Linked DNA regions of Homo sapiens. The protein of the gene in region 1 purifies or fractionates together with the protein of each later gene. This does not show direct contact. Each region holds a gene or a part of one and is shown in the gene's direction. Other genes may lie near its edges.

What was found.
Region 2: the proteins of SEC13 (region 1) and KLHL12 purify together in Homo sapiens (affinity purification with mass spectrometry; 3 studies listed by BioGRID and IntAct, with this or other methods). This does not show direct contact.
Region 3: the proteins of SEC13 (region 1) and NUP160 purify together in Homo sapiens (affinity purification with mass spectrometry; 6 studies listed by BioGRID and IntAct, with this or other methods). This does not show direct contact.
Region 4: the proteins of SEC13 (region 1) and TFG purify together in Homo sapiens (affinity purification with mass spectrometry; 3 studies listed by BioGRID and IntAct, with this or other methods). This does not show direct contact.
Region 5: the proteins of SEC13 (region 1) and PRPF38A purify together in Homo sapiens (affinity purification with mass spectrometry; 3 studies listed by BioGRID and IntAct, with this or other methods). This does not show direct contact.
Region 6: the proteins of SEC13 (region 1) and PRPF19 fractionate together in Homo sapiens (co-fractionation; one large-scale study listed by BioGRID). This does not show direct contact.
Region 7: the proteins of SEC13 (region 1) and MED4 purify together in Homo sapiens (affinity purification with mass spectrometry; 2 studies listed by BioGRID and IntAct, with this or other methods). This does not show direct contact.

What each region holds. Positions count from the first base shown.
Region 1 is NC_000003.12:10,311,113-10,314,612, reverse strand, and holds part of SEC13 (protein SEC13 homolog), read left to right. Parts: intron 1-1,882; coding exon 1,883-2,034; intron 2,035-2,514; coding exon 2,515-2,648; coding exon of another isoform or gene 2,649-2,783; exon of another isoform or gene 2,784-3,037; intron 3,038-3,500. UniProt on the Homo sapiens protein: Functions as a component of the nuclear pore complex (NPC) and the COPII coat. At the endoplasmic reticulum, SEC13 is involved in the biogenesis of COPII-coated vesicles.
Region 2 is NC_000001.11:202,903,235-202,906,734, reverse strand, and holds part of KLHL12 (kelch-like protein 12), read left to right. Parts: intron 1-3,500. UniProt on the Homo sapiens protein: Substrate-specific adapter of a BCR (BTB-CUL3-RBX1) E3 ubiquitin ligase complex that acts as a negative regulator of Wnt signaling pathway and ER-Golgi transport.
Region 3 is NC_000011.10:47,777,618-47,779,984, reverse strand, and holds the end of NUP160 (nuclear pore complex protein Nup160), read left to right. Parts: intron 1-790; coding exon 791-880; 3' UTR 881-1,867; downstream 1,868-2,367. UniProt on the Homo sapiens protein: Functions as a component of the nuclear pore complex (NPC). Involved in poly(A)+ RNA transport.
Region 4 is NC_000003.12:100,743,994-100,747,493, forward strand, and holds part of TFG (protein TFG), read left to right. Parts: intron 1-839; coding exon 840-938; intron 939-3,500. UniProt on the Homo sapiens protein: Plays a role in the normal dynamic function of the endoplasmic reticulum (ER) and its associated microtubules. Required for secretory cargo traffic from the endoplasmic reticulum to the Golgi apparatus.
Region 5 is NC_000001.11:52,411,102-52,414,601, forward strand, and holds part of PRPF38A (pre-mRNA-splicing factor 38A), read left to right. Parts: intron 1-13; coding exon 14-99; intron 100-340; exon of another isoform or gene 341-421; intron 422-1,412; coding exon 1,413-1,523; intron 1,524-2,777; coding exon 2,778-2,890; intron 2,891-3,500. UniProt on the Homo sapiens protein: Involved in pre-mRNA splicing as a component of the spliceosome.
Region 6 is NC_000011.10:60,896,586-60,900,085, reverse strand, and holds part of PRPF19 (pre-mRNA-processing factor 19), read left to right. Parts: intron 1-781; coding exon 782-937; intron 938-1,154; coding exon 1,155-1,224; intron 1,225-1,459; coding exon 1,460-1,545; intron 1,546-1,814; coding exon 1,815-1,985; intron 1,986-2,134; coding exon 2,135-2,240; intron 2,241-3,500. UniProt on the Homo sapiens protein: Ubiquitin-protein ligase which is a core component of several complexes mainly involved pre-mRNA splicing and DNA repair. Required for pre-mRNA splicing as component of the spliceosome.
Region 7 is NC_000013.11:48,081,605-48,085,104, reverse strand, and holds part of MED4 (mediator of RNA polymerase II transcription subunit 4), read left to right. Parts: intron 1-1,676; coding exon 1,677-1,734; intron 1,735-3,373; coding exon 3,374-3,460; intron 3,461-3,500. UniProt on the Homo sapiens protein: Component of the Mediator complex, a coactivator involved in the regulated transcription of nearly all RNA polymerase II-dependent genes.

The sequences.
Region 1 (3,500 bases):
TGTGAATAGAGTTCAGGGGTTGATGAATTGGGACAGGGGGAAAAAAATGCATTTTCAGTGACTCTGATATTTAGCATTTCCTTCAATTATGGATGTAGGCCAGAAACTTCAGTAGTATTTGTAGTGCCTGTCACTTTGTCACCAGTAGAATTCACAGATATTGTCATCACACATCACGGTTACTTAGCTACCTCAAAATACCACTTATGCTCATCACAACTTTGAAATTACAGTGGTTATTAGACCTGCCGCTAGGGTTTGTTGCTTGAAGTGTTAACAAAGAAGTACATGCATCACTATCTCATAAATTGCTTTATAATATTTTGATAACAGGCTGGGCAAGGTGGCTCACGCCTGTAATCCTTAACACTTTGGGAGGCTGAGGTGGGAGGATGGCCTGAGCCTAGGAGTTTGAGGCTGCAGTGAGCCACGATGGTGCCACTGCACTGCAGCCTGGATGACAGGGTGAAACCCTTCTCAAAAAAAAAAAGTTGATTACTGTATAATTTATAATTGAATTTTCTTTATAAGCCTAGTTCTGTGTGTTTTGTACATTAGTCTGATGAGGGTCCATAACCTTCCCCAGAATGCACAGAAAAGATTAAGAGCCATGACAGGTGGGTGCTCAGCATGTGTTTGTTCACTGAATTAAAAAGCATAAACTAAGTCAGTGTCCATTTGGGGAAATGGGCCTAGAAGCTCCCCTCTGTCTGAGTGTCAAATGATCAAGTGACTGAGGAGCCAAATCAAGCTTCTCTATGCAGGAGCCCCCCAGGCAGGCAGAGAGCTGCTGCAGTGCAGCGTGTTGGCCAAGGCAGTTATGTTTGCTGTGACTCTGTCCTTTCTGCTGTTTTTCTTACATTCAAAGGATGTGAAATATTGGAGGGATAAAAAAAATTCCCACCCCATTCTTTTTTCCCCTTAGTAAAAACTGTGCTAGTTGTTGGAAGATTGAGTCTACTCAGTTTCATTAGCAGCAGCTTTGTAGGGACTGGGAATGTCCTGTTGTCCCAGCCAGAGGGAGGAGGAGACTTGAGTGTGTGCAGCCCACGGTGAAGGAGTAAACCAGGAGCAGCACTAATAGCTAATGGGTATTGAGTGGCTTTTTTCTTTCCTTCTACCAAGCATTGTTCCAAACTTTATGAAAGAATTCTTATTGATGTCTCCATTTTCAGGTAAAGAGACAAAGATATCCTTGCCTAAAGTCAAGAGCTAGTGAATGGGAGAATGGGTCTGGTCTCCTAACCACTAACTCTACCATGCTACTCTACCTCTTGAGTGCTAAGGTGCAAAACCTTCCCTGGGCCAGAGAAATGGTCACCGTACAAAGCCTGGCACAGAGCATGTGCTCAGATAGCACCTGTTATCAGGTGAATGGATAAAGATCAGAAGAGAAGGGAAAGACATGCCTTTCGAACAAATTAAAAGAGTAGTGGAAAACATCAAAATGAAACCAATAATGCCTCCTCAGGAAGCTGACCGTCGGGAAGGATGAATAGCAATTCAGTCTACAAATATTTCCTGAACACTTCTGGCTGGAAACCTTGGACCAATTAATGACTATGCTGTAGACAGCACATACAGACAGTGCTGGCTGCAGTCTGGGCAAGTGAGGCTCCTGCCTGGCCAGGACAGGAAGGCTGACCCAGAGGCTCAACTCTCTCTCAAAGGCTCTGTGACCTTAGGTTGCTTAACCTCTTAGGACCTCAGGCTCCTCACTGTCCACTGAGCACCCCTTTTGCAATGGCATTGTATAGTTCTCCCTTTGAAGTTCTTAAGCAATTCTGCCCTGATATATCGTCTCAGGGAGCCATTTAGTTCTGTCCAAAGTAGTGCCTGCAGAGGCACTGTGGGTTCCTCTGGCCTATCTCTCCCTTTGTAGTCATGAGGGTCCTGTGTGGCAAGTGGCCTGGGCTCACCCCATGTACGGCAACATCCTGGCATCGTGCTCCTATGACCGGAAAGTCATTATCTGGAGAGAGGAAAACGGCACCTGGGAGAAGAGCCACGAGCATGCGGGACACGACTCCTCAGGTATGCTGAGCTTGGCAGCAGAGCGGGCAAGGGGACCACTGGGTAAAAAAGGACTCTGTCCCGGCTGGAGCCCTGGCTCCCTGCCCCTCGTGGTGCCTCTTGTCTGTCTCTTGAGCTTTGGTTGGCTTTTCTGCTACTCTGTCCTCAGCTGAGTAAGGCCCTAAGACCTAAAGCCAGTCCAAAGCAAATAAGAAAAGACAGGTGAGTTTCTCTTCAGGATTATTCATTGCAAGGACTACCCTTCATTCTCAGATTGTTTTCCTACCCACTTTTTTGTTAGATAGACTGTAGGTTATGAAATCGTGGTATTAGTAGGTGATGGGGTTTTTTTGTGTCCTCAGTTGACCAAGTTACAGCTTCCCCCGGTGACTCCTACAGTTGTTTGTTGTAGACATTTAGTAAAACAGTAAATCTGTGGAAGGCGGGACCTGGGGCCGCGGTCTCCCTGCTTTGCTCACTGCACTCTCCCTCTTCCCGCAGTGAACTCGGTGTGCTGGGCCCCCCATGACTACGGCCTGATCCTGGCCTGTGGGAGCTCGGATGGGGCCATCTCCCTGCTGACTTACACCGGGGAAGGCCAATGGGAAGTAAAGAAGATCAACAACGCTCACACCGTGAGTCCATCCCCTGCCTTTCGTGCAGTGAGAGCGCCTGCCTTGCCCCGTGTCTGCTGCAGCCTCCCTAGAGGGTGGCACGGGAGGGTCCCCGCTGGACAGTGGGCCGGGGAGTGGTCAGCTGACCAGACATGATTGCTCTAGAGCAGCTTTGAGCCTCTCTGCCCTGAAGCCAGACCAGGCAGGGCTTGGCACTGCTTCCTTGTTGTGTGCTCCCAAGCAGGGGAGGGCTGGTGCAGCAGCAGCCTGCTCACTGCCACCTTAGCTATGGTTGCCTCCAGGTGACATGCCCTGCAGTAGTCATTGGGACCCTGTAGAATGGAGTGGTGTTATTAAAACTTTTAAAAAGTATGTGAGCTATGCATACATTTAAGAAAGATTAATATAAACAAGGTCATTCTTTACCCAACTTTTGGTGAATCAGCGAGTGACAGTGGTCGTGATGTTGGTGGTTCAATCAAGGAATAAATGTTTGCAAAGCGAACATCAATGTCCTACCTCCTACCACCACACAGTTCAAAAACCAACAATAACCAATGTGGGGGGCTCATATGACTAATGCCACATCGTTTGCTGTCATGCATCTGTATGATTATTGGATATTTTATGAGTTTAATTCTACAATAATTTGTATCTATTCTTTTTCTAATCTACTCATTCCAGTTCAGGGTCACAGGTGGTTGGAGCCTGTCCTGGCAGCTTAGGGCATGAGGCAGAAGCCAGCCCTGGACAGGATACCATTCCACCAGAGGAGCACTCACACACACCCCCACACTCACACTGGGACAATGCAGACGTACCATTGAAGTGAACATGCACATCTTTATTGTGTGAAAGGAAACCAGAGTACCA
Region 2 (3,500 bases), on another chromosome or scaffold:
AGCCAAGATTGCACCATTGTACTCCAGCCTGGGCGACAGAGTGAGACTCCATCTCAAAAATAAATAAATTAATTAAATAAAATATATTTAGCATAAAATTTACCATCTTAACCATTTTTACATGTACAGTTGACTCATGTTAAATACATTGTTATACAATCAATCTCTGTAACTCTTTTTGTCTTAACAAGACTGAAACTCTGTACCCATTAAACAATAAACTCCCAATTTTGCCTTTCCTCCCAGGGTAGGAACTTTTTTTTTTTTTTTTTTTTTTTTGAGACGAAGCGTTGCTCTTGTTGCCCAGGCTGGAGTGCAGTGGCATAATCTTTGCTCACTGCAACCTCTGTCTCCTGGGTTCAAGCGATTCTCCTGCCTCAGCCTCCCAAGTAGCTGGGATTACAGGTGTGTGCCACCACGCCTGGCTAATTTTTTGTATTTTTTAGTAGAGACGGGGTTTCACCACGTTGGCCAGGCTGGTCTCGGACTCCTGACGTCAGGTGATCCGCCCACCTCAGCCTCCTAAAGTGCTGGGATTACGGGCATGAGCCACCGCGCCTGGCCATTACTTTTGTTTTTTAAAAAATAATTATTATTTTTAAAAATTGGGTTGGGTGGCCGGGCGCGGTGGCTCATGCCCGTAATCCCAGCACTTTGGGAGGCCGAGGCGGGTGGATCACGAGGTCAGGAGATCGAGACCATCCAGGCTAACACGGTGAAACCCCGTATCTACTAAAAATACAAAAAAAAAAAAAAAAAAAAAAAAGCCAGGTGTGGTGGCGGGCACCTGTAGTTCAAGCTACTCAGGAGGCTGAGGCAGGAGAATGGCGTGAACCCAGGAGATGGAGCCTGCAGTAAGCTGAGATCACGCCACTGCACTCCAGCCTGGGCGACAGAGTGAGACTCTGTCTAAAAAAAAATCGGGTTGGGTATCCCTAATCTGAAAATCTTGAAATTCAAAATGCTCCAAGATCTAAAACTTTGAGTGCCAACATAATGCTCAAAGGAAATGCTCATTGAAGCATTTTGGATTTGGGGTTTCTGAATTAGGGATGCGCAAATAGTTGTGCAAAGAAATAATGCAGATATTACAAAAATCCAAAAGTGTCTGAAATCTGTAGCGCTTCTTGTCGTAAGCATTTCAGATAAGGGTTACTCAACCTATACCATGAAAGCCAGTGATGTAGTGGAAAGAACCTGGCACTAGGAGATAAGACATTTTGCTTACTTTGATTTTTACTCCAATTTCCGACACTCACTCTAGTAACTTGCTGTTTGGACAAGTCCTTTAACTTCTCTGGGTTACCAGTTCTTTATATCAACAGAGTTAATGTTCAGTCACTAAGGTACTTTCCAACACAGAAAAATGTTTCCTTTTTGCATGATAGCACTCATTATTTGCTTATTAAATTGAACTAAAAGCTAATGAAAATTTTTGTGAATCAGTAAACCCAGAAGATTCTTTGGAGGTACATTTCTTGCATATCTCTGAACAGGCAGCAGAAGGGGCTCCTGCTTGGTTAGAGAACTTGCTTATTGCCCTGACCTTAAGGGATTAAACTATAAATCTATATATCTTCATAGTCTTGAGGTTATTTTTCAGAAGTTCTAGAAGGGAAATGCTGAAGCAGTTTCCAATTAGATTCTTAGTATCGCTTTGTCAGTGCCTTAGCAGGTAGATTGTTCTTACCATCATGTCCTCTACCCATCTCTATGCATATTGGCTGCTAAACCAGCTACCAGGATAATGACTCTTCTGCATACAGCAGAAGGAAATTAAATTGACAGCCAAGTTAAAATAGCCTGCCAAATAAGGGATTTTTAGTTATTAACCTTACCCATTACTGTCTCAAAGAAGATATAATGGAAATTACTTTTCTAATTTGTGGCTGTCTCCTTTTTTGAACTAAAGATCAGTGCAAATGGAAATGTGAGTCTCTGAACCCTGTTATTTTAGCAGTCCTGCATCTGCCTTATTTCTCTAACAACGTGTCACAGCACACACACACTCCCCTTCCCCTCTTTCTAAAAATAATGACCATGCCACTGCCAGGTTCTTCAGTTTTAGAAATGTGCTTTTTCACACTGTTCTTGTAAGATGTCCTAGACAAGCTTTTCTCATTAAAAAGATAAAAATCTCACTTAACAAGTACTCCATCATTGGCAGAGAACAAACAGGCTTCTTTCAGGTTGACTCTTTCACTAGCTTTTTTTTACACGAGTCAGATTGTTTGAGTATTGGTCTCCAACTTAGGGTTAAAACATTAAAACCTTAGGAGTTCTTCTGGGGAAGAAGGACTTTCTAGGCACAAAATAGTGGAAGAAATGACAAAGAATAAAAACATATTTGAATAAATAAAAAAATCATATACAAAATTATGATAAATTAGGAACATAGGTTTGGAACAACCCTTTAAAGGGTTAAAGGGTTGGCCTGGCAGGGTGCCTTACGCCTGTAATCCCAGCGCTTTGGGAGGCTGAGGCAGGTGGATCACCTGAGATCGGGAGTTTGAGACCAGCCTGACCAACATGGAGAAATCCTGTCTCTACTAAAAATACAAAATTAGCCGGGCTTGGTGGCACATGCCTGTAATCCCAGCTACTCGGGAAATTGCTTGAACCTGGGAGGTGGAGATTGTGGTGAACCAAGATCGTGCCATTGCACTCCAGCCTGGGCAACAAGAGCAAAACTCCATCTCATAGATAGATAGATAGATAAATAGATAGATAGATAGATAGATACATAGATAGATAGATAAAGGGTTAAAGGGTTAAAACCATTTGTGTGTAAAGAGCTCATAAGAATGCATGAGACAGGGCCAAGAGCAGTGGCTCACACCTGTAATCCCAGCACTTTGAGAGGCTGAGGCAGGCGATGGAGCCCAGGAATTCGAGACCAGCCTGGCCAACAGGATGAAACCCTGTCTCTACTAAAAGTATAAAAATTAGCCAGGCATGGTGACGCATGCCTGTAATCCCAGCTATTGGGGAGGTTGAGGCAGGAGAATCATTTTAGCCCAGGAGGCAGAGGTTGCAGTGAGCCAAGATCACACCACTGCACTCCAGCCTGGGCCACAGAGCAAGACGCCGTTTCAAAAAAAAAAAGAAAAGAAAAAAATTAGTGGTCCCAGCTACTAGGGAAGCTGAAGTGGGAGGCTAGGAGGATGCTTGAGCCCAGGAGGTCGAGGCTGAGGCTGCAGTGAACCATAATTGCACCAGTGCACTCTAGCCTGGGCAGCAGAGCAAGACCTTGTCTCAAAAAAGAAAAAAAAAACAAGAATGCATGAGAGAAACAATAAAGATTTGAGTGTACAGTTCGCAGAAGGGCAAGTAAAGCTGGCTACTAGATACAAGGGAGGGAGTTCAACCTAATTAATAATAGGGTCTTATTAGTTATAAAGAATTAAACATAATTTTTTGCCTACCAGAGTGTCAGAGATTTAAAAACTATCCAGTGCCTCAGAAAGTAGAATGAGTTGGCACCTTTATAGTGTTGGTGG
Region 3 (2,367 bases), on another chromosome or scaffold:
GCTGAGACGGGCAGATTACCTGAGAGGTCAGGAGTTCGAGATCAGCTTTGCCAACATGGTGAAATTCCATCTCTACTAAATATACCAAAACTAGCCAGGCATGGTGGCGGGCACCTGTAATCCCAGCTACTCGGGAGGCTGAGGCAGGAGAATCGCTTGAACCCAGGAGGCGGAGGTTCCAGTGAGCCAAGATTGCACCACCGCACTCCATCCTAGACAGCAGAGTGAGACTCCATTCCCCCACCCTGAAAAAGAAAGAAATACAGTGTGATAAATTATCACTGTCCTGAGGGAAGTTGGCATATATAACAACATTTCTCAGGAGTCATATATTCACCCTGCTTGCCTTAACATAAAAAACAATAGTGTTTCCTTGAGTCATTATAGTGATGGCTTATTTTGTTTACCAGTGAGATAGAGTGCCTCCTGAGCCTATCTAAAATATTAGTTCTATATTTCACTTGGCAGCTAATAACTAGTTATATCAGATGCAGCATTTCTGGTTCTGAGAAAAGAGTTAGTGATCCTTTTATTAGAAATACTGGTACGATTTCCATACTTAGAAAATTCATTCAGAAAATGAGACTGAAATGTTGTATATAACAGAGAGGCCTAGTTTTATCAGTAGAGTCACAGAGGAGACTCCTATAACAAATGGTGATTTTATGAAGCAGAGTGGCTAACATCTTTATAAGGTGGAATCTACTTGGTGAAGTCAAAGTTATTAATAACTTCAATATTTTTCCATTGTTGAGCTGTTATGTAATGTTTTCCTTCTTTTCTCTTATAGCTGTCCCAGAAAATACTTGACAAATTGGAGGACTACCAGCAAAAAGTTGATAAGGCAACACGGGATTTATTATATCGTCGGACCTTGTGATTTGGATTGTCACCTAGCCTTTGTAACCGCTTGGTGCCTCTTAGGACTTAAGACTACCCTACAGGAACCCTGTACTCAAGGCCGATTTTTGTAACTGTAAATGATGTGTACAACATTCAAGTCTGCATTCTGCACAAGATAGGAGGGCGGAAGAGTCAGAGGACCCTGTGCTTGCTGGTGGTGCTAACACAATTTCTGGTGTTCAACCTTGGTCTCAAATAGCTGCTTTTGTATATGATTCACGAGCTTTTTTAGAGTTTATATTTTTTTAAACTACCGAAGACATTCATTATCTGCAAATTAAGACTCACCTTCACTTTCCAAAATAGCTGAGGGTTGTTGGCTTGTTGTAGCTGACCACCAAAAGCAGTCACTGCAAATCTTTTAATTCTTCCCTATCACCTTTTGTATTTTAATGCAATTATTTTGGTCCAGAACTGACCTGTATTTTCTGTATTGTACACAAAAGCTAATAATTTTGTGTACTTTTTATTTATTTTGGAGGTTTTATATGATCTTCAATTGAGTATTAAATAATTTGCCTAGATTAAGCCTAAAATGATGACCAGCTAATTAAAGAAGATATTTTGAATCTGGTTCTGAGCTAAAGTTGAGTAAATTCTTAGCTAAGAAAAAATTGGAAATCCATCATCTATATTAGCAACAGATTCTCAGAGTAAATTGTTAACTTCTATGATTTATGATAATCAAGCTGGACTTGATCATACAAGTTAGTCTCATAATGTATTGGACCAAAATGTAAACTTCATTGGTCAGATTTAGAAGCATTCATGCTCACAAGTTTTGGGAAAGTGAAAAATAATAAAATCATCTTGGATTTTATTCTGTATATTAAAATTTATCTTTTAAGGAAACAATCTGTATACTACTTGCTTGTATAGCCTTTTGACCCTTCTTGAGTTTTTCAGAAGCCTTTAATTTTTATACTTTCAATACCATATTTACATTATATACTTTAATTAACAATGTGAGTTTCTCTGTGGTACTGTTGTTGATAGATACTGAGGTGTGTGTTTCTTTTTTTTTTTTTTTTTTTTTTTTCATTTTAGCTCTACTATGATTAATACGAGGCATTTGGTGCAATTAGGGACTGGGAGAGCCCCTGTCCTCCCAGCTCTCTAAACCTGTGGCTTTCAACGACAGTAAGAAAGACATTTTGACCTACATACACATATATAACCAAAAGAAAAGTTTCACAAAATTTGTATCCTCACCTACAGTGTATCCTGATGTTTTCATGAGTGACTAATGGATCATAACCCATAGTATGAAAACATCAAGGGCCAGGCGTGGTGGCTAACTCCTATAATCTCAGCACTTTGGGAAGCTGAGGCAGGCGGATCACTTGAGATCAGGAGTTCAAGACCAACGTGGCAAAACCACATCTTTCAAAAAAAAAAAAAAATTAGCTGGTCGCAGTGGTGCGTACCTGTAGTCCCAGCTACTAGAGGGGCTGAGGCGGAAAG
Region 4 (3,500 bases), about 90 Mb from region 1:
TAATTGAGAAGTAGAGATAATAAAGACATAAACCAATAAATCTTTGCTTGAAAATCACAGGTATGGGAACAGATTGTGAGGACAGAAAAATAAAAAGTAAAAAGAAAAATCATAGGTAATAAGTGTCTAAAGGGTTTCTTCATAGGAACAGTGGTTGTTGACCCCAAATAGGACAAATAGGACTCCCATGTTCAAGAACACATCACCGTTGTTAAAAAGGTCTGCCATTATTAAATAGTGCAATGAAGAACCATTTAGACTTTATTAGAGTCCACGTTATTGGCAAAAGATGTTGGATATTCATAGAAAATCAAACTTGACAAATTCCAAAAGTGTCTTTCAGCTCTGGAACAAAAGATGTCATATAGTTCCTTGCTACCAAAGAGTTTGTTCATATGGTAATAGAGGCCCATACCTTTAGAGGGCAAATACAGTGCTTTAGGAAGGACTTAGATGATATAAATGGTATTTGTCCCTTTTCTCATTTTTATTTACTGATTTTCAACTCACTTGGCTTTTAATGAACATTAGCGTTACTTATCTGTTGGCAGCTGGGTTGGAAAACATTTGTTTTTCTAGACTTTATGAAATGGTAGCCACTGGTGTTGCACTTAATGTTTATTGCCAGTTAGTTCTCTGCAGTTAATCCACAGCAGAGGAATCACACTTCTAAAATGGTTCATTCTCTTCTTCATAGACATTTAAAGTTGAACAAATACTTTCTTGTATATTGTTACTCTGTTTGGATGGAGAGGGAATGTATATGTATCTTAAAAATATTTCTCTTTGCCACATTAAACATGCCTTTTTTCCTTGTGTGTGTGTGTGTGTGTTTTCAGGTCAGATGTACCAACAGTACCAGCAACAGGCCGGCTATGGTGCACAGCAGCCGCAGGCTCCACCTCAGCAGCCTCAACAGTATGGTATTCAGTATTCAGGTGAGCAGGTGTTGAAAGGGAGTTGGCTCATGGTTTTTTGTTTCTATACTCATTAAACTTTAAGTTCTTAATTCCTTGATTTGTAGTACATTGATATAATAGGTATTAAGTTTTTATTAGGGGAAACAACATTTGTTTTATTTATTTTTAAATATTTTACATTAATATTGTAAATCAACATTTCAGTTTTCTGGTGGGGAGATAAAACTTACAGTAGATGATTCTGCAGTAACTTGTAGTATAAAAAGTTTTTAATACAAAGCTGTCTTACTAACATTATCAGTTTATCTCTTAGGCGACTTAGTGCAAGTTTTCCCCCTTCCCTCCACCTCTCCATTTATATGTAACACGTAATTCCAGTGTACTCTTAGTACCTGTAGAAATATGAACAGTTTACTATACATGGAAAGGTGATGTTATTTAAATAAGAGCTCAATTAAGCTACTTAGATTTTAAAATCTCTTGCAAGTATGTAGGAATACCAGAAATAGGCCATAAAAATAAAATCGTATAAAATGTAATTCAGGCAACTAAGAACATTGTTTAGTTGTTTTAAATAAGCATCCTGAGTATTTTGTTTCTATTTTACCATCTGTCCACTGAAGATTATATGTATTTAAGTATGATAAATATTATTAATGTAACTTTGGCTATAATTCCAGTATTTTTTACAGTTATGTCAGAGAGTTTGTGTCCAACTCTTGTTTTACAGCCAAAGATTGAAGTATCAGAATTTCAACTGTAATTAGAAATAATTTATGCAGGTTGAATCTAGTCTAAATTCTATTTTATAGAGTTTTGTGGTATCAGCTAGAGCAGGAGTCAGTAAAGTATAGCCCACAGGCCAAATCTGGACTATTGCCTGTTTTTTTGAATAAAGTTTTATTGGAACACACTTCTACTTTTATATTCTCTACTGCTACTTGGGCACTAGAATGGCAGAGTTGAGTAGTTGCAACAGAAGACCATGTGGCCCACAAAGCCTAAACTATTTACTATCTGGCTCTTTACAGAAAAGTTTGCTGACTCCTGACCTAGACCATAACATTCTGTCATTAATTAAAATTTGAAATATTTTGACACAATTTTATTTAGATTGTATTTGCTGTAGAGTGACTTAACTTGTAGCTACTTGTTTTTAATTGTATAAAATACATAGAACTTAAGTTTGGATTATATCAGGAGGAAGGTTATTTTTAGGATGCAGTTCTTTTAAAAAAATCAGTGTTACAAACTATGTTATTTATAGAAAGAATAGCAGAGCTGAAGAGATTTAGTCATCATTTAATCTCGGGATTTCGGTCCTCACTATGCTTTAGAATCACCTGGGGGAGGCTATGTGTGGGGCCCCATTCCCAGAGATTTTGAATTTCATTTGATTGGGTGTGGGACTCAGGCGTTTGCATTTTATAAATGAGGCAACTAGTTTTGAAAGAGATTGTGACTTGTCAAAGCACATACAGCCATTCAGTGGAGGGAGCTGGATCAGTTCAGTATTTCCCTGTATCATTCTGCATTCTACAACCTAGACTGGAGTTGGCAGACTTACTCCATAAAAGGCTAGATGTCCTATGTATTAAAAAAAAAACTCACATAATTTCCATATTTCCATTTTTTTGCTATTTCTGATGTCCTTCACCTAAAGTTATTTATTATTTTGGAGGGACGGAAGGGAGACTATATATATACACACACACACATGATAGAAGCATTGCCACATTATGTTCAAGAGACTGGTGGGCTGCTAATGAAATCTTCAGCCTGTAGGGTTATTCCCTCCCCTAAGCAATAATTAAGGATCAGATTACTTCCAGGCCCAGTTAAAAAAAAACAATTCAGATTTCAGGTGCCAGGATGAAAAGGCACTTTTCTTTTTTCTCGCAGTGTTAAAATGAATAGGCATTTTCAGTATAAAGCTGAATCCATCTATTTCTTCAAAACCTTATAGTGAAAATTTAAGTTTTATGTAGAGGATAGGAGAACTTGTATGACATTCAGAATTTTTTATGAGTTGGTTTCAGGTCAGTATTTAGATGCTACCATGAGTTAATGCGTTAAAGATACTTGATTTACTTATTAAGAACTAAGCTTGCTCTTAATAAATTTAGTCAGGGTCTTCACTCTGAGTAAAATTTAGTCTTTTCAAATTATTATCTTTGTATTTCTGATCCTACTAGTCTATTAACTTGAATTTGATTGAGAGATATGGAAATAGTCAACTAAATACTCTGCTTGGAGACTAAGAGGTGGTGGTGGTAACATTGGACCATCTTTGACACTGTTGGTTTGCCAGTTTCCCTCTGACCTTTTCCAGTTTTGTTCATGGACTATGTCATAAAGGTTTCTTTCATGAGTAAATTTTGAACCCAGGTTCAAGGTGAGTTCAGAATATACTCAAATTCATTCAATCCTTTTTTTTTTTAATGCAGGGTTGTACATATTTTAATAATTTTCTTATGTATCTGGTATTTAATGCTGACAGGATTCCAGTCAATGGAGAGGTTTCATTGCAAGTAGCTGCAGGTGTGTTTCATGGTAGAGATAAAAGTTTTCAGTGAAGCA
Region 5 (3,500 bases), on another chromosome or scaffold:
CTTTTTCTTGCAGAGTTTGAATTGATGCATGTTGATGAGTTTATTGATGAACTATTGCACAGTGAGAGAGTCTGTGATATCATTCTGCCCCGACTACAGGTAAGAAATAAAAGTCTGTTACCAGAGTCACCCTTCTCTTCCTAGACGGGCAGACAGACAAACACATACACACAGCTTAAACACTGAAGCCTGTGGATCTTATGGGTCCTCTTAATGAATAGTCTTCCTGTCTGGGAGTCCCAAGATAGTGGATTGGGAGTGAGAGGAAAATAGATAAAATATTTGAAGGGTAGGGCTTTAAAAGTGAATGGTTTAAAACAAGGAAACTTTGTTTTTCTCCATCCTTTTGTAGTTCAGGTGCATGTGTGAGTTGTGCCTCCCTCAAACCTTGTTACAAAGTCAGCACATTACCTGTCTATCATGAAAAAAGAAATTTATTCAGGATGTTACATCAAGGGTATTGTAGCTAGAGTAGGTAGGGAGTTTTTAACTTCATGAACGTTTTTTTTAAACTAATCTTCATGTAAAAAGCCAGGACATAAAACAGATAAAAATAGGGCCAGGAGTGGGAGACTGAGCCATTAATTCCTTAAACTTGCCTTCACCATCCTGCTTCCCTTTCCTAGTGATAAACGATTATCCATGAGGCATCTTTTCAGGAAATGAGTGTGATACAGCTCTCCTGTTCCATGTTGGCACTGTAGGGCATGTAGTGGAAAGAATGAGATTATAAATTTGAAAACCTACTTTGAGGGCCCAATTCTTATAGCAAGACAATGTCTTGCTGTGTTGCCCAGGCTGTTCTTAAACTCCTGGGCTCAAGGGATCTTCCTACCTCAGTCTCCCAAGGAGCTGGGACCACGGGTACATGCCACTACATTTAGCCATTTGGCATTTTTGAAATCAGCTTTGCCTCTCTGATCCTTAGCCACTCAAATAAACATTGCTAAGCCATATCCCAGATTAAAATGGAACCAGTTCAAAATGCATGAATATCAACAGCTCCCGAGATCCTGGGTCTACTGGAGATTTGGTACTACTCTAGGGCTAGGCCTCTTCTAGTGGAACTACCAGCCATGAACTTATTAGCCCTTGGATTTTCTCTGTGTGTGAAGCCCTTACTTTTGGTTCTAGGCTGTACCTATACTGATTGATATTCCCATGACTTTAGAGTATAAGGTACAGGGAATAGAGTCAATAGAAAATGAAGATGTTCTCTTCAGGTTTGTATTTATGTTTATAGGAGAACTTTATAGATTTCAGGTCTATTAAACTTGTTAGGAAAATCTTGAACTGTCTTTGAAATGAAATTGCCTCAGCTGTTGCTCCTTGGAACCCTGAAGCCCAGTGTTGAGGTTTCAAGAAATAGGGGAAATGGCAACAACCCCTAACTCTCATCATTTTCTCTGTAGAAACGCTATGTATTAGAGGAAGCTGAGCAACTGGAGCCTCGAGTTAGTGCTCTGGAAGAGGACATGGATGATGTGGAGTCCAGTGAAGAGGAAGAAGAGGAGGATGAGAAGGTCTGGCACCTGAGACTTTTATGGTTGTAGGGGAGGGAGTAATAGAAAATGGGAATGGTTTTTTGTTTTTAGACTTTAATTTTTAACTCTATTGGCCGGGCGTGGTCGCTCAAGCCTGTAATCATAGCACTTTGGGAGGCCAAGGCGAGTGGATGACCAGCGGTCAGGAGTTCAAGACCAGCCTGGCCAACGTGGTGGTGAAACCTCGTCTCTACTAAAAATACAAAAATTAGCCAGCGTTGTGGTGGGTGCCTGTAATCCTAGCTACCCAGGAGGCTGAGGCAGCAGAATTGCTTGAACCCGGGAGGCAGAGGTTGCAGTGAGCCAAGATCGCAACACTGCACTCCAGCTTGGGCAAAAGTGAGACTCCGTCTCAAAAAAAATTTTTTTTCTAACTCTAGCCAAAAACAATATTTCCTTATTAAAAGCACCTCAGCTCTGCCATATACTAGTAGTATAATCTTACGCAAATTACTTAAATTTAGTTTTCTCCTATGTAAAGTGAGGTTAATGATACTTTTTTCCCCAAGACTGTTAAAAGTATTAAATAAGATTATAAACTTAAAGCCCTTAGCAGAGTATTGGCACATTATAATTGCCTAATAAATGGTGGCAGCTATTAAATACTTGGAAAGAAAGAACACTTTCATAATTGCACCTATCCTAAGGAATAAACCTTGTTTAGGAGGGGGAAAATGTCAACCGCATAGTCATGTTCTTTCAGTACTAGTTACGGTGCTGAAAAGTTGAAAACAACCAAGCTGCCCAGTTGTTCCAGGAAGCAAACTTTTTTTTTTTTTGAGATAGGGTCTTGCTCTGTTGCCCAGGCTGAGGTGCAGTGGCTCACTGCATTCTCGGCCTCCCAGGCTCAAGCAGTCTTCCCATCTCAGCCTCCCAAGTAGCTGGAACTACAGGCACGTGCCAGCATACCTGGCTAATTTGTGTATTTTTTTTGTAGAGATGGGATTTCACCATGTTGCCCAGGCTGCAGATAAACTAAACATACACACATACACACACACAGGTCTGTTTCTGTTCCCTCTCCTATGAGTCATTTTGGCTGTCTTATATAGCTCATAATAAGTTTTGTTAGTTAATAGGGTAAGTGCTTCCCTCTTTGTAGTCAGGTTACTGTGCTTTAAAGTCACATGGAGATGGACTTTGGGACAAGATGGGGCGTGAAGTATAATTAGTGTTCCTAGATGGCTCTTTATAAGCCTGTGCCTTTCAATGACCCAATCATCTTGTTTCCAGTTGGAAAGAGTGCCATCACCTGATCACCGCCGGAGAAGCTACCGAGACTTGGACAAGCCCCGTCGCTCTCCCACACTGCGCTACAGGAGGAGTAGGAGCCGGTCTCCCAGAAGGTAAAGCCTAGTCATTGGCCTTTTCCCAGAAGATTTTGAGCACTGTAGCCTAGAAGTTTGGATTTTAGAGAAGGAAAAATGCACGTCTATGGAGAATGTTTGCCCAATATATTAGTTATCTGTTGCTGCAAAACAACCACCTATAAAACCTCATTGGCAGACAACAATAACCATTTGTTCCTTTCACAAGTCTGCAGTCAATGATTTAAGCAGAGCTTGGATAGGCAGTTTTTAAAGTACCTGTTCTGTTGTCGGCTGTCTACTGGCTGGTATGGAATTGCCTTAGCTTGGATGACGGGGGAAATTTCTCTTCTCTGTGTCATCCTCTAGCAGGCTAAGTTGGGCATATTCTCATGGTAGTGGCAGAACTCAAGAGCAAACAAACCCGGTCATGCAAATGTTTTTCCAGTATCTGCTTTTATCACATTTGCAAATATCTCATTAGCCAAAGCGAGTCATGTCACCAGTCCTAAAGTTAGAATGGGAGGGTGCTAGAGTTACGTGACAAAAGACATGGATACAGAGGTGGGTGATACAGAGAAGCGTGAAGGATAAGATTGGGGCCGTTTTTGCAATCTACCACATCCAGTGCGCCAACCTAGGCTTTCTT
Region 6 (3,500 bases), on another chromosome or scaffold:
AGCCTAAGACAGTTTGGGTTTGGGGCTGCAGGACATGGTTGGTTTAGTGCTTCGCAGTCAAGATTTCCCTTGGACCTTAGGGAAATGAGAAATATAAGAATAACATGGTGAATTTTTCATGACTAAATTTGTTCAAATTGAGAGCACTGTTTTCTTGCTTATGGGGTATTAATAGTTAGGTCTCATGAAATTGTATTGATAAAAAAAGATGGTAGTTATTTTTACCTTATGGCTTTTAATATCCTAACTAAACAAAAAATTGGTGAGTGACGCGAAATTCTCTCCCTGCCCCAAATCTTTTGGAAAATTAACTTACCCTGGAAATCCATAAAAGTGGAATGCACTGAAATACAGCCATGCAGCCCCTTCCAGTCCCAGTACTGCTCAGACCTGTGCCATACAGTACAGTAGCAGTTAGCTGCATGTGGCTATTTAAATTTCAATGAAATAGAATAAAAAATTCAGTCCCTCAATTGTACTAGCTACATTTTTCCTTTGGTCCTGGAAATGGGAAAATTGCTCTCTGTTGCAGTTAGCCTTTTTACCACTAGATGGCGAGGACGCCTCCACAAGCCCTGATGCTGTATGAGTTAGCACTTTAATAGCGTTTACCATTGGCTGTCTTGGGCACCATTGGGTGGATAGGTGGTTCCAGGGAGGGCAGAGCTGAAAGGAGAAGCAATTGTTGGCAGTTGTGGGCATCCCCAGCCCCGTTTTATAAGATTGTTTTGGTCTGTATCTCTTTTCTGACTCTGATATTCTGTCTTTGTTTTCCTTGTAGGACCTGGTGTTTTCTGCTTCCCCCGATGCCACTATCAGGATTTGGTCGGTCCCCAATGCCTCTTGTGTACAGGTGGTTCGGGCCCATGAGAGTGCTGTGACAGGCCTCAGCCTTCATGCCACTGGCGACTATCTCCTGAGCTCCTCCGATGATCAGGTGCGGTCCCAGCCAGTGCCCTGGAGAGGCCTGCTGGTCCCCAAGCTTGAACATCCTGGGTGGCAGGAACATCTTCCCACCCCAGCTGGTTCCCCAGAACCTCAAAGGAGAATGTTTGCCAGGGTTTGCCAAACCAGGGGCTCTGTCTTGCTGAAGGGCCACCAGAACCTGGGACCCACTTTCTCACTGACTCCATTGTCTCTTTTTTTTTCCCCAGTACTGGGCTTTCTCTGACATCCAGACAGGGCGTGTGCTCACCAAGGTGACAGATGAGACCTCCGGCTGCTGTAAGTTGCCTCATAGGCACTCAGCTTTTTTGTTTGCTGTTTATTATTTATTTTTACATTTTATTTAGTCATTTGTTTATTTGTTCTAAAGATATATTTACCATGAGCACCTGTCTAGTGCGGGCTTTGTGCTGGGTTCACTGAGGAATGTGAAGAACAAGGAACCTACCTTTGCTGCTCTTAGTCTCTCTCCCTGGTGGGCTCTGACCACAGGTCTCTCTTCCCTCCTCCACAGCTCTCACCTGTGCACAGTTCCACCCTGACGGACTCATCTTTGGAACAGGAACCATGGACTCTCAGATCAAGATCTGGGACTTGAAGGTAGGACATGGTAGGCCTCCATCTGAGGCCCAGGGCCAGAGGGAGTGTTTGTGACAATGCAGTGCTAATTAGGTGCTTGTGGCACCTGGCCCTGAAGGTGGAGAGACACTGGCTGTGCGTGTGTGATATGATGGTGTGGTCTGGGGGGTCCCGCTGGCTGTCCTTCCTGGAAGGACGTGAGGGACATCTCAGGTAGGAGTTTGGTGAGCCCCATTTTCTTCCTCTCATGATCTGTGGGTGACGTATTTTACTACCCACCGCCACTGTAGGAACGTACTAATGTGGCCAACTTCCCTGGCCACTCGGGCCCCATCACTAGCATCGCCTTCTCTGAGAATGGTTACTACCTGGCTACAGCGGCTGATGACTCCTCTGTCAAGCTCTGGGATCTGCGCAAGCTTAAGAACTTTAAGACTTTGCAGCTGGATAACAACTTTGAGGTGTGCCCTTCCCCCTCCGCCCAGCTTTCCATTGTGTCTCCTTGTTTGTCAATTATTTATTGAATTAATCTAATTGCTTCTGCTTATCCGCAACTGCCCCATAGTTTCTGTTCCCCTTGTGTGACCTTCTCTCTTTCTATTTCTGGCAGGTAAAGTCACTGATCTTTGACCAGAGTGGTACCTACCTGGCTCTTGGGGGCACGGATGTCCAGATCTACATCTGCAAACAATGGACGGAGATTCTTCACTTTACAGGTAGAGGCTGGTCCTGGGCTCCTGGGATCTCTCTAGGTGCCCAGGCCCGGAGGGAAGCCTCACTGGGTTAGGAATTTCTAGGGCTTGCATGAATTTACCTAAGCAGCTTTCTGTTACCACCTGAGGCAGAGCTTTATGACTAAGGAAGCAACTGAGTCAGACTGCATGGCAGTAGATGCTAGTGCTTGTTCTGCCACTTCCATGCCCTGTGGCATTGGGCAGGTTACTAAAGGGAGAGAAAAGTCCCTCTGAAGTTTTGATAACTGAATCTAAAATAAATGAACATTAGACAGTGACAGGAGGAGAGCCATTTTAATTACGTGCATATGCACGGGAGGCCCACATTATATTAGATCTGCAGAAGGGTCAGATGATTGAAGCTTATACAGTTTATATATCACTTAATAATGGGGATATGTTCTGAGAAATGTCTTGTTAGGTGATATCGTCATGTGCGACCATTGTAGAGTGAACTTACATATATCTAAATGGTGTAGCCTACTACACGCCAAGACTATTGCTATAACCTTAGTATAGTCTATTATTGCTCCTAGGCTACAAACCGGTACAGCATATTAAATGTAGTGAATACAATTATAACACAATGGTAAGTATTTGTGTATCTAAACAAGTGTAAACATAGAAAAGGTTCAGTAAAAATAAGGTATAAGAGATTTTTTTAAAATGGTACACTGGTATAGTGCTTGCCATGAAAGGAGCTTGCAGGACTGGAAGTTGCTTTCAGTGAGTGAGTTGTGAGTGAATGTGAAGGCCTAGGACATTACTGTACGCTGCTGTAGACTTTATAAACACAGTACACTTAGGTTTTACTAAATTCATAAAAAACTTTTTCTTCAGTAATAAGCCTTAGCTGACTTTTACTTTATAAACTTAAAAAAATGGATTCTTTTGTAATAACATTTAACTTAAAACTAAAACACATTGTACAGCTGTACAAAAATATTGTCTCTCTTTACATCCTTGTTCTATAAGCTTTTTTCTAATTTTTTTATTTTTATTTTTTACTTTTTAAACTTTTCTTGTTAAAAACTAAGACACAAGCACACATTACCCTAGGCCTACACAGGATCAGGATCACCAACTGTATTAGTCCGTTCTCACACTGCTATGAAGAACTGCCTGGGTAATTGATAAGGGAAAGAGGTTTAATTGACTCACAGTGACTCGGGAGGCCTCAGGAAACTTACAGTCATAGCAGCAGGGAAAGCAAACATGTCTTTCTTTACATGGCAACAGGAG
Region 7 (3,500 bases), on another chromosome or scaffold:
CTGAGGTCGGGAGTACAAGACTAGCCTAGTCAACATGGTGAAATCCATCTCTACTAAAAATACAAAAAAATTTAGCTGGGCATGGTGATTCACGCCTGTAATCTCAGGTACTTGGGAGGCTGAGGCAGGAGAATCTCTTGAACCCGGGAGGCAGAGGTTGCAATGAACTGGGATCACCCCACTGCACTCCAGCCTGGGCGACAGAGGGAGACTCTGTCTCAAAATATATTATTTATATGTTTGTATATATTATATATATATTAAAATCTGTAAATATGTATATAAAAATCCTTATGTATGTAATACTTGCTTATCAAACAAAATTCAGAAAATACAGAAAAATGGAAAGAAGAGGGAAAAAATTGTCTTTAGTTCAGCTGCGGAAAGAATGCCACTATTCATAGTTTGGTCTATTTCCTTTGAGTCTCAGGTGTATTAATTTTTTAGGTAATTGTAGTTAGCAGGATACTAACAGACTTTCAATTACTGTTTATTGAAACTTAAGCATTTTTCATATAATTGTATCCACTTTGTTTGATTTTCCCACTTTGTGTTATAAATAATTAAAGACAGTGAACACAGGACCATAAAACTGAATTTCATGACTTAAATAGTAGTAACTAACATTGATTGAGCACTTAGGCACCAGGCCCTGTGCCTTGCATTTTATATGCATTACTTCCATCTTCCTAACAGTTTATATCAAGTCAGTGTCGTCATTTAGAGGAAGAAACCAATACTTTAATAACTAACTTGCCCATGGAGGCTAAAAAGTAGATTGAATTTAAACCTTGATCTCTCTGACTCCATACTCTTTTTTTTTTTTTTTTTTTTTTTTTGAGACAGAGTCTTGCTCTTGCTCTATTGCCCAGGCCAGAGTGCGATGGCACAGTCTTGGCTCACTGCAACCTCTGCCTCCTGGGTTCAAGCGATTCTCCTGCCTCAGCCTCCCAAGTAGCTGAGATAGGCGTGTGTCACCATGCCCATATAAATTTTTTGTATTTTTAGTAGAGATGGGTTTTTACCGTGTTGGTCAGGCTGGTCTCAGACTCCTGATCTCAAATGATCTGCCTGCCTCGGCCTCCCAAAATGCTGGGATTACAGGTGTGAGCCATTGTGCCTGGCCTGACTCCATACTCTTAACCACAGTGTCATAGTCGAAGATATGCATATACTAGGTTAACTTCATTTTGTCCTTTAGTGTACCTGAGGGCTTGGAGGGAGTGTTTTTGTGATAAAGTCATTAAACATTGAGCTGATATATAAACGAATAAGAATATGAATTCAAGGTTGTATCTTCCAAACTAGGGGAAAAAAGGGTATTTTATTCTTGAACTAGTTGCAAGAATAGGATGCTTTTGGGGTCGTCCATAGTCTGGGTGTCTTCTGCATGTTTATGGTAGAAGACGTGAAGAAAAAGACAATCCAATTTATGTTTTGTTTCTACAACTAATTTGTGAATGGGAGACTAGTTCATAAATATAATATTTCTTTCATTAAATATGACTGAAATAAATAATGTCAAGTGGTATTTCAGAACATTACAAATAAATTGTTGGGATTTCCAAGTTTCAAAGATTGTTCTTGTAGGCTAAAGGATCTTGTGAATTAAGCCAAAAACTAAGTTTGATATAGTTGAAGAATAAACCACGTTTTTTAAATGTTGTTTAAATTAGGCAACAGCTGTTTACCAAGCGAAGGAGAAACTCAAGTCAATAGAAAAAGCAAGAAAAGGTTAGTATCATGGGAAGACTGAATGACCTGAAAAGTTAAGGTTCTGGTTTCAGGAAACCAATACAAGAGGATATTACTGATAATCATTTGCTGCTGTTGAAAAGATTCAGTAAATTTTTATTGTAAAGTGTGTTGTGTTCTAGCATTGTGCTGGGTTTTGTGAGGGAGGTAGAAGTATCACATCTTTTTTCAGATTATAAAAAGCAATTAATACAAGGCAGTTTATGGCTGTGTGCCCAAATGTGCAGTAAAAACAGTGAGTTTATAAAATTGGTGGGAGAGGGAAAGAGAAGTATGGGTTAGAAGTGGGATTTGTACCAAATCTTGAAGGTTAGGACAGAGAGAGTGAAAAGACATCCATTGGGCAACTGCGCTGGGACTGAAACATCATGAAGTCAGAGCCAGACGTACATGAAGTCAGAGCCAGTTATACCCTTGGCATATAAGCACATTTGGTGGTGCAGAGGCCCACATGCCTTCCTGCCCTGCTGTCCCTTTTTCAAAGGCTTCTGTTAAATAGCTAATACTCCTTTTTTTTTTTTTTGAGACGGAGTCTCGCTCTGTCGCCCAGGCTGGAGTGCAGTGGCGCGATCTCGGCGCACTGCAAGCTCCGCCTCCCGGGTTCACGCCACTCTCCTGCCTCAGCCTCCCGAGTAGCTGGGACTACAGGCGCCCGCCACCACACCCGGCTAATTTTTTGTATTTTTAGTAGAGACGGGGTTTCACTGTGTTAGCCAGGATGGTCTTGATCTCCTGACCTCGTGATCTGCCCACCTCGGCCTCCCAAAGTGCTGGGATTACAGGCATGAGCCACTGCGCCCAGCCAAATAGCTAATATTCTTTTGAGAGTTAGGTTAGGCTTCTGTAGCAAGAAACAAATCTCTAGGAGAGATGGCTGAGGCTGGCTGTTGACTTCTAGACCGTTGTTTGATTCTGTTTTTAATCTTCAAAAACTGTACACACATACACTTTGTTACATTGAAACAGTATCTAAAGTTTGTAAAATGAAGTGTGTGGTTCTCACTTCTCAGAGGTAACTATTAATGTTTGGTATATGTCCTAGATTTTTTTTTTCTAGATCTGTGAGTATGTATGTAATAAAAATACAAATACACATATGTACATACATTTTGAACAGTCGGGTCATACCGTACATATTATTTAGCAGTTTAGTTTTTTTTTTTACCTAATGAATACATTGTAGACATCTTTCTATTTAGGTCTACTTAAGAGCCTTAGGGCATATTGATCGAACAGAGTGGTGTGAACTGTCTGCTCTGATTTCATAGCTTGGATGTCTTTGAGAAATGAAACACTGTTTTCTCTATTTTATTTGTGCTCACTATGCTTTCAGAAGAGGAATGGTATTTAACGGTAGTTAATAATTGAGATTATTGAGTGCTATGGTGCTAATCTCCGAAATTTGTTTATGTCAGCTAATTTTTCTGGATTAGTGTCCTGTTTTTGGAGATTTAAGTTTATACTAAACATGTAGGTATTGTTAAGGAAGGCAGGTGACTGAGATTATTTTATTTTCAGATAATTTAAAATTAAATACGATGTGTAACTGATAGATACATTTCTAAACTTGTATGTTTGTTAGACTACAGGTTATACTGTCCTCTTAAAACTCTTTCAGGTGCTATCTCCTCTGAAGAAATAATTAAGTATGCACATAGGATCAGTGCAAGTAATGCTGTATGTGCTCCACTGACCTGGGTTCCAGGTAAACATACTCGTCTTATTATACTAGATATATGTGGTTT